Regions from separate parts of the Homo sapiens genome. Here all the other regions are linked to region 3. Evidence: fine-mapped QTL for protein levels in blood plasma. A gene starts in region 3. Each other region holds a variant in brackets. All regions are shown on one strand. Distances are between the middles of the regions.

Region 1 (2,758 bases), 52 kb before region 3:
AGCAAGTCACCCCTCACTTCTCTGGCAGCCCTCACAGAGTCACATTGGGTGACCTTCCCTCCACTTGGTTTTTTTTCTTTTTTAGGCAGAGTTTCGCCCTGTTGCCCAGGCTGGAGTTCAGTGGTGCAATCTCGGCTCACTGCAACCTATGCCTCCCGGGTTCAAGCGATTCTCCTGCCTCAACCTCCTGAGTAGCTGGGACTACGGTGCCCACCACCACACCCAGCTAATTTGTGTATTTTTAGTAGAGACGGGGTTTTGCCATGTTGGTCAGGCTGGTCTTGAACTCCTGACCTCAAGTGATCCACCTGCCTCAGCCTCCCAAAGTGCTGGGATCACAGGCGTGAGCCACCACGCCTGGCCATTCCCCTTGGTTTTGTCACCACTCTTCCATCTGTTTTAAACCACCTGGAGATTTGTTAAAATCTCTCAAAGCCCTTAAAAAACAAAAAACAACAACAACAAAAAACTGTCAGGGTTTTAGTTTCCTGCACACTGGTAAAGCCAACCGTCCTGTTAGAAATCTCTTCAGAAACTTGATATTCATCTCTCTAAGTCAATAAAACAGCCTTGCAAACAGGTCAAGATTTTACCAGCCCGGGGCTGGGCATGGTGGCTCAGGCCTGTAATCCCAGCACTTTGAGAGGCCAAGGTGGGTGGATCACCTGAGGTCGGGAGTTCGAGACCAGCCTGACCAACATGGAGAAACCGCATCTCTTCTAAAAATACAACATTAGCCGGCTGTGGTGGCGAATGCTTGTAACCCCAGCTACTCAGAAGGCTGAGGCAGGAGAATTGCTTGAACCCAGGAGGTGCAGGTTGCGGTGAGCCGAGATTGAGCCATTGTACTCCAGCCTGGGCAACATGAGCGAAACTCCATCTCAAAAATATAAAGATTTTACCAGCCCAATAATTTCAGGAAGAATTTTTTTTTAATCAACAGAATCTCTTGCCAAAATGCTAAAACTGGATTTTATCATTCCATTCACTGAGTCTGACTACTCAAAGGATAACCAGAACCCAAACCTGACCTAATGAACAGCCGAGGGTGTAGGTCATTTGCCTCCACCCCTGGCTGTTGGTGGGGAGAGGCACAACAGTGGGGGCACAGACTCCACCCTGTGGTCGAGGCCTGGGGTGGGAACTGCTTACCCTGGGGCTTGGTGACCGTCTCTGCTGCACAGATTGGGTAGGGGACACAGCGGGCACAGGAGTTGGTGGCTGATGTGGCACAGATCATGCCAGGTCGACATTCGCAGGTGCGGGAGGAGTTCCATGCA[C/T]ATGGCGTCTTCTCCACAAGGTCATCTAAGGGACACAGATGAGGATCACGGAGAAAGATCAGTATGGCAAGGGCAGGGGGTCCAGAGAGCCCCCAGGAAGACAGAGAAGCAGTTGTCCAAGGGTCATCCAACAAGAAAATAAATGCTCGTCTGACTATGCCGTTGAGCAGCTCTCCCAGCATGCTCAAAATAATTCTGCAGGGTGAAAGAAGGCAGGCAAAAAGCGAGGGTATTCTGTATGTCGCATTTACATGCAAGCTATTGCATGGTGACCATAAGCAGGGGATGGGAAATGGTGACAAGCAACCCGAGGTAACTTTTAGAGGGGGATGGCTGGTTGCTCAGCTGCATGCATTTGTTAAAACTTATCAGATTGCATCCTTTAATCTATGCACTTTACCATATGCCCACTATCTCTCCCTAAAGCTGTTAAAAGAAAGTCCTCCAGGGGACGGGGTGAGCGGGCATGGGTGCAGAGGAGCCAAGACTGGCCATGACTCCATAACCGTTTAAAGCTGGGTGATAGTACGCAGCCATCTCTGACTCACTCTACATCTGAATATGTTTGAAATTTTTAATAATAAAAAGATTTTTTGGCCAGACACGGTGGCTCACGACTGTAATCCCGGCACTTTGGGAGGCCGAGGCAGGCAGATCACAAGGTCAGGAGTTCAAGTCCAGCCTGACCAACATGGTGAAACCCCGTCTCTACTAAAAATACAAAAATTAGCCATGCCTGGTGGCACGTGCCTGTAATCCCAGCTACTCAGGAGGCTGAGGCAGGAGAATCACTTGAACCTGGGAGGCAGAGGTTGCAGTGAGCCAAGATAGTGCCACTGCACTCCAGCCTGGGCGACAGAACAAGACTCTGTCTATTTAAAAAAAAAAAAAAAAAAAAAAAAAAAAAGATTTTTTTTCCTCCAAAAGCAAAAAAAAACCATGTTAGAGGTATTATTTTTAATAAGTGTAATAATGCATTTGTACGTATTCGGGAATATTTTGCAACGCTCCACTTAGAGGTAAATACAGAACGACTGCATCAGTAGATTAGGCAAATGGGACCTCTCCGCGAGGGTAGATCTCAATCAGCAGGATACTTAGAGACCCAGCATGATAATGATAAGGGCTGGACAGTCTCTTCTTACAACATCCAGAGCAAGGGAACTGGGCAGGATTTGGGGAATTTGTGCAAAGGGTGTGTGTGAGCTCAGCAATGAATGAAACCATTTGGGACAATGGCAGCTATTATCATTATTATTATAGCTCTTAAGATAACTGAGTATGTGTGAGACAGTAGTCTCAGCACTCTACCCAGATTAACCTACAATCATGTATTCAATTCTCACATGGTTCTCTGAGATAGATAATACTATGCCCATTTTGCAGCAGAGGAAACTGAGGCACAGAGAGGTTAGGAAACCTGCTTGAGGTTATAGGCTATCAAGTGGGAGAGGCGGGATCTGAACCCGGCACTCGGG
Region 2 (2,758 bases), 25 kb after region 3:
AAACTGTGAACTGAAACTGCCAGAGCAGCTGATAGAACCCCTCCACAGGGCTGCTCTCAGGCAATAGGCTCGGTCTATAGTCCTGGTAAAACTTCTGAATAAAAAGAACTCTAAAGTTTTTGTTTTTTGTTTTTGAGACGGAGTTTCACTCTTGTTGCCCAGGCTGGAATGCAATGGTGTGATCTCAGCTCACTGCAACCTCTGCCTCCCGGGTTCAAGCGATTCTCCTCCCGCAGCCTCCCGAGTAGCTGACATTACAGGCATGTGCCACCACGCCCGGCTAATTTTGTATTTTTAGTAGAGACTGGGTTTCTCAATGTTGGTCAGACTGGTCTCGAACTCCTGACCTCAAGTGATCTGCCCACCTTGGCCTCCCAAAGTGCTGGGATTACAGGCTTGAGCCACCACGCCCGGCATTTTTATTTATTTATTTATTTTTAGACATGGTCTCACTCTGTTGCTCAGGCTGGAGTGCAGTGTTGTGATCACCACGCACTGCAGTCTCAGACTTCCCCGGGCTCAGGTGATCCTCCCACCTCAGCCTACCAAGTAGCTGGGAACCACAGATGTATGTCACCATGCCTGGCTAATTTTTTGTATTTTCAGTAGAGATGGGGTTTCATCTCTACATGTTGCCCAGGCTGCTCTTAAACTCCTGGGCTCGGGCAATCCACTGGCTTCAGCCTCCCAAATTACTGGGATTACAAGTGTGAGCTACCACACCCAGCCCGAACTCTAATTCTTCAGCTTTTTATTTTCTTTAGTTGACACCTGGCAAACTTCCACCATGGGAGTCAGGGGGTGTTTGTCAGAATTTGCTGGGAATGGGATGGGGGGCAGCTAGTTCTCCCTCGAGGCTGGGGTGTTCTGTAACCCTCAATCCTGGTGGACAGGAAGGGTTCCCCCACCAAATCTGAGGCCTGGGGAATTCTCAAAGCCCTCCCTCTCCCCTTCTCCACTGGCTGAGATGTCATGAGTCCTGGCTGGCCAAGAAAGGCTTCCTTGCCTCGGGAGCTGGAGGCCCAGGACACCTGGGTGCCTCTGGTATCCCATCAACAATGGTGGGGGATAGAGGAGGCAGGGCTGGGGGAAGCAGAGGGGTTTCTGCTGAGTTTCAGAGGCTGTGTTGCCAACTCTTAGCCACAGATAAAGAGGGCCAAAGAGAGTGTGGTCAGAGCTCAGCATGGTGATGGCATGACAGGGGATGTCCCCAAAGGCCACCCAAACCATCATCAGGCACTCTTA[T/C]GCCACCCCAACTGATCACATCACGATCCTGTGGGCCCAGCTTCCTCTCAAAACTTCCTGCAAGGCTTCAGCCATCCACCCTCACAGCCTCAGCACTGGCCCCAGGGAGGGTCCTGCCCACCCACATCCCTCCTCCCTCCCTGTCCTCAGAGCCTCCATGCTAATGAAACTGGCAAGAAGGCTGCTGCCGGCATCTGCTCCCAGCAACAGCCCTTCCAGGAGCTGGGGGTGAAGGCCACTGGATCAAAGGACTCCATGCCCTGCTTCCATTCTCTCTTATCGTCCTGGGGAAGGCATGAGCTGGAGCAAACTCAGGGGGCAGGTTCCATTCCAGGCAACAGGATGGCATCAATCTTATGATGGAAGAGCTGATGACAGTCTTATCATTTCTCATAGCTCCCCTCCCCGTCAGACCACGTGCCCGGGTCTCTGCAGGTCGGATCTGGTTCACCTCTTCTTGGAGTTATCGCCCGTGTACAGATGACAAAACTGAGCTACATACAGAAAGGCTAAGTGACACGGCCGCCGTCACGCAGTCAGTGGGTGGCAATACCGAGGGCGGGTGTTCGGAGCTACACTCTATGTCCTCCCACAGATTGGGCTGAAAAGTTCAGCAAACCTACAGCCAAGTCTACATTGAGCCAGTGTGCATTCTCAGAACATCTGAATGCCACTTTCCAAAGGCAGAGGGGGGAAATCCAGCTGTGTGTGTGTTTCTGGGCCATGCACGCTTCACCTCATGATGAAGTGGGAGTGGAAGGGTCACCCAACCCCTCCAGGGAGAATTCCCCTTTGCAGCCTCCCTCTCAGAGGGTGGCAATCAGTAGCCAACAGGTCCTTGTCTTGCCTGGGAGGTTAAAAGTGGCCTGAGGGAGGGAAGGTGGGGTTATTTCCATACACTTCCATCTGCACGCCAAGGGACTGGGCCCTGCAGCTGCCAATGGATGGCGGACGTAGAGTTTCCCAGATGAAGATGTTTCAGCTGTCCCCAGCCGCTCCCTACCATCCACCCTAGGGTCCTAGACTCCCCTGGGAGACTGGTGCTGAGCCGAGACCCCACAATCTGCCTGAGGCCTAGGGCAACAGATGTGCAGAAACCAGCGCAAGCTAGAACAGCAGCAGCTCAGCCCCAGTGCTAGAATCCCAGGAAACAGGAACCTCGGGTCTCAGGGCTGCCAGGTCTACCTTCCCAAGACCTGGGAGCTCATTTACTCCCTCGTTCATTCAACATTTATTTATTGAACGTCTATCATATGCCGCATGCTGTACTAGGCCCTGGGGATAGCGCCAAGGACAGGACAGGCTTGGTTCCTGCTCTCAAGGAGCTTACAGTCAAGTGTCACAAAGTCTACAATGGGGATGCTGCAGAACCCAACTCCAGGAGCCTTGGCCAGTTCGGTCGGCTCAGGGAAGGGCTCTGAGGAATTGAAATAGAAGCTGAGGACTGAGTAGGAGTTCATTGGGTGGAAGAGAGCTTTGGGCAGAGGCAATGGAGTAGATAAAGACCCAGAGG
Region 3 (2,730 bases):
ACATGCCTGTAATCCCAGCTACCTGGGAGGCTGAGGCAGGAGAATCACTTGAATCCGGGAGGCAGAGGTTGCAGTGAGCCGAGATCGAGCATTGCACTCCAGCATGGGCAACAAGAGTGAGACTCAGTCTCAAAAAAAAAAAAAAAAAAAAAAGGTTTGGTATGAGAGTTCAGGCTGTAGTGAGTTATGATCGCACTCCAGCCTGGACAACAGAGTGAGACCCTGTCTCTAACATTAAAAAAAGTGGAGGGGGCTTCACTCTACAGAAAGGAAGCACATGAGCTTCAGCTGCCAAACCAAACCAGCAAAGCCCCCCAAGCACCTCTCACATCTCTTCCTTCCCTTCATCTCCCCAAGACCTTGGCACTCCAAACTCTTACCTTCCCCCAGGTGAGGGCTTGCAGAGCTGGGACAGGGTGTCTCTAGCCAGGGCTTTGTCCCCTCTGCCCTCTTGGGGGGAAAGGGGGAATACCTCACATTGCCCATTGGAAATGGAAGAGGGCATAGTTCCTCCTTTGCTGCATAGTTCCTCCCTCCTGCCTAAAGCCCACTCTGCCACTCTCCTCCCACTGCCTAAGGTTCAGATGACTAGAATTGATCCATAGCATGGAGTCCTCTCTTCCTGTAGGATTAAAGGGGAACTGGGTCTTCCCTCTCCCCCACCGTGACCCACCGCTGGACTAACAGCCTGCTCCTTCCTTTCCCTCTGTATCATTCAGCAGGCATCCACTCGCACCTACTATGGTTCTATGCAGGGGTCCACCGGGGTCCTGGGTCAGCTGAGGGCCTCTCTCTCCAGCAGCCCCTGGGCTCCGTGAAACACGCCTGGTTACTTTGCATTCTCCCCACAGTGATTAATTTGGCGCTGGCCACTGGTAAGTGCTCAGTTTTCCTAAAGCAGTCCCCAAACTCAATTCTGAGGCAACCCACCATAGACTTCAGCCCCACCACTGACCTTCTTCCAGGGGCAAATGCCCACCACGTGCTCCAGCGAATTCAATCCACAGCGTTGCTTTGCCGGACGCGGATTGGGGAAGCTAATCCCGGTGGTCCTGCACCCTCACCCCACTCTCACCCACAGCCAACTCTCCCTCCTTTCCTTGACCCTCCAGCCAGTGGCCAGCTTAGGAAGGGGGCAAACGGGACCGCGCACACAACAGGGTAGAGCGCGGACGACCAACCTCCCATGGCTAAGGGAGGCCCCATCTGGCCTGCCCACTACTCCCACGGCCTCACCTGATCTGCCCAGGACCCCGACGGGCCCGCAGGTAGGCGGGCTAAAGAGCGCCTCCCGCGTATGGCAGTGCTCTCAGTCCAATTCACACTGAATGAATGAATCAGTCCCAGCCATCGCGGGGTGAGAAGGAGGCGCCCCCCACCACTAGCCCTTCAGCCAGCCTCCCACCTGTGGGTGCTAGCATATTCCGGTGTTCCTGCTTGTCACCCGCGCCCCCTCACTCCAGCTGGGCAGGGAACGGGGTGAGGAGTGTCCTCCCTTGCGTCCCACGCACCCCACACTGTCCGGGCTCTGGACCGCCGGCACCTCCCCAGGCGCCCGTCACCCGCTTACCTGTGGGAAGGCTCGTAGCGCCCCCAGGAACAGCAGTCCCAGCGCGGCGAGGAGGACGCGCATCCCCGGGGCCGGACGTGAGGTGGCCTGGCGGCCGGCGCCCACCTGGGAAGCGGGGGAAGCGCGCGGCGCCCACGTGCGGTCCCGGCGGTTCTCAGCCGCGCGCGTGGACTTCAGGCTCCAGCACACTCCCGCCGCGGCCACCTAGTCCGCACCCAACGCACGCCGCGAAGTCACTTCAAAAGTGGTTGTTCCTCCGAGGTTTCAGCCTTAGTTCTCCCGTATCAAATTGGTTCCAGGAACACTTAGCTACAAGCAGCGAAGAAAAAAGGGGGCAAACACGTGCAGAGATGACTCAGGAAAAGGCACACTAGGAGACGCCTCCCTTAGCTGTTTGAATGGCCCGCCCCGGATTTGACGGAACTAGTGGTCCTGGCTCTAGGGAGTGTGCTGCCCGCCGCACCTGGGCTGCGGGGAGCGGAGGCAGGCAGCTTCTGGCCCTGGAGGTGGGGACTCACAGGATATTAGGAGGCCCCAAGGGGGTTCCAATGCCCCCACCTCCACTCCTGCCCCAAGAAACGGTGAAATGTGAGTAGTTTCCTGTCCCTGACACGATCAGCCAGGACCTTCTCCCATGCCCTTGAGATTCTTTGGAAGGGACAACTGGCCTAGGGAGACTGCAGAAAAAGCAACCATCACCCACCCATCCCCATTCATAAGCATTTGCTGTAAAATGAATCAGTGAGTGGATGATAAATTGGTGGATGGATGGATGGATGGATGGATGCATAGGTGGATGGATGGATGGATGGATGGATGGATGGATGGATGGATGGATGCATAAGTGGATGGATGGATGGATGGATGGATGGATGGATGGATGGATGGATGCATAGGTGGATGGATGGATGGATGGATGGATGGATGGATGGATGGATGGATGCATAAGTGGATGGATGGATGGATGGATGGATGGATGCATAAGTGGATGGATGGATGGATGGATGGATGGGTGAGCAGCAGGTGAGTGGGTAAATGGGTGGGTGGATGGGTGGATGGATGGATGCATAGATGGATGGATGGATGGATGCATAGGTGGATGGATGGATGGATGGATGGATGGATGGATGCATAAGTGGATGGATGGATGGATGGATGGA

Direction of the effects. Alleles are on the strand shown, and positions count from the first base shown. The strength of an association depends on the size of the effect and on how common the allele is.
For the plasma level of the protein whose gene starts at base 1,929 in region 3, T is the low allele of the variant in region 1 and C is the other (moderate association).
With allele T in place of C in region 2, the plasma level of the protein whose gene starts at base 1,929 in region 3 is lower (moderate association).

The links. PIP is the posterior inclusion probability: the model's chance that the variant is causal. The UK Biobank Pharma Proteomics Project read protein levels with antibody pairs (Olink). The fine-mapping took linkage between variants from a reference panel, not from the people measured, so its PIPs are less certain.
Region 1: its variant is fine-mapped to the plasma level of the TNFRSF8 protein (UK Biobank, PIP above 0.99). The variant lies in the coding sequence of TNFRSF8. If it changes the protein, the assay may bind it differently, which can mimic a change of level.
Region 2: its variant is fine-mapped to the plasma level of the TNFRSF8 protein (UK Biobank, PIP above 0.99).

What each region holds. Positions count from the first base shown.
Region 1 is chr1:12,114,124-12,116,881 of GRCh38, reverse strand. TNFRSF8 (TNF receptor superfamily member 8) reads right to left here. Exons shown (of 15, transcript NM_001243.5): 8 at 1,153-1,305. Among named protein-coding and RNA genes, the nearest start is that of MIR7846, 51 kb to the left of the region's middle. The variant C/T (reference allele first, on the strand shown) is at 1,281.
Region 2 is chr1:12,037,776-12,040,533 of GRCh38, reverse strand. No RefSeq gene overlaps it. Among named protein-coding and RNA genes, the nearest start is that of MIR6729, 10 kb to the right of the region's middle. RefSeq lists an enhancer at 881-1,380 and a cis regulatory region at 1,163-2,285. The variant T/C (reference allele first, on the strand shown) is at 1,246.
Region 3 is chr1:12,062,502-12,065,231 of GRCh38, reverse strand. It overlaps TNFRSF8 (TNF receptor superfamily member 8), which reads right to left and starts at 1,929. Exons shown (of 15, transcript NM_001243.5): 1 at 1,571-1,929. The coding sequence starts at 1,633. RefSeq lists silencers at 1,537-1,666, 2,254-2,486.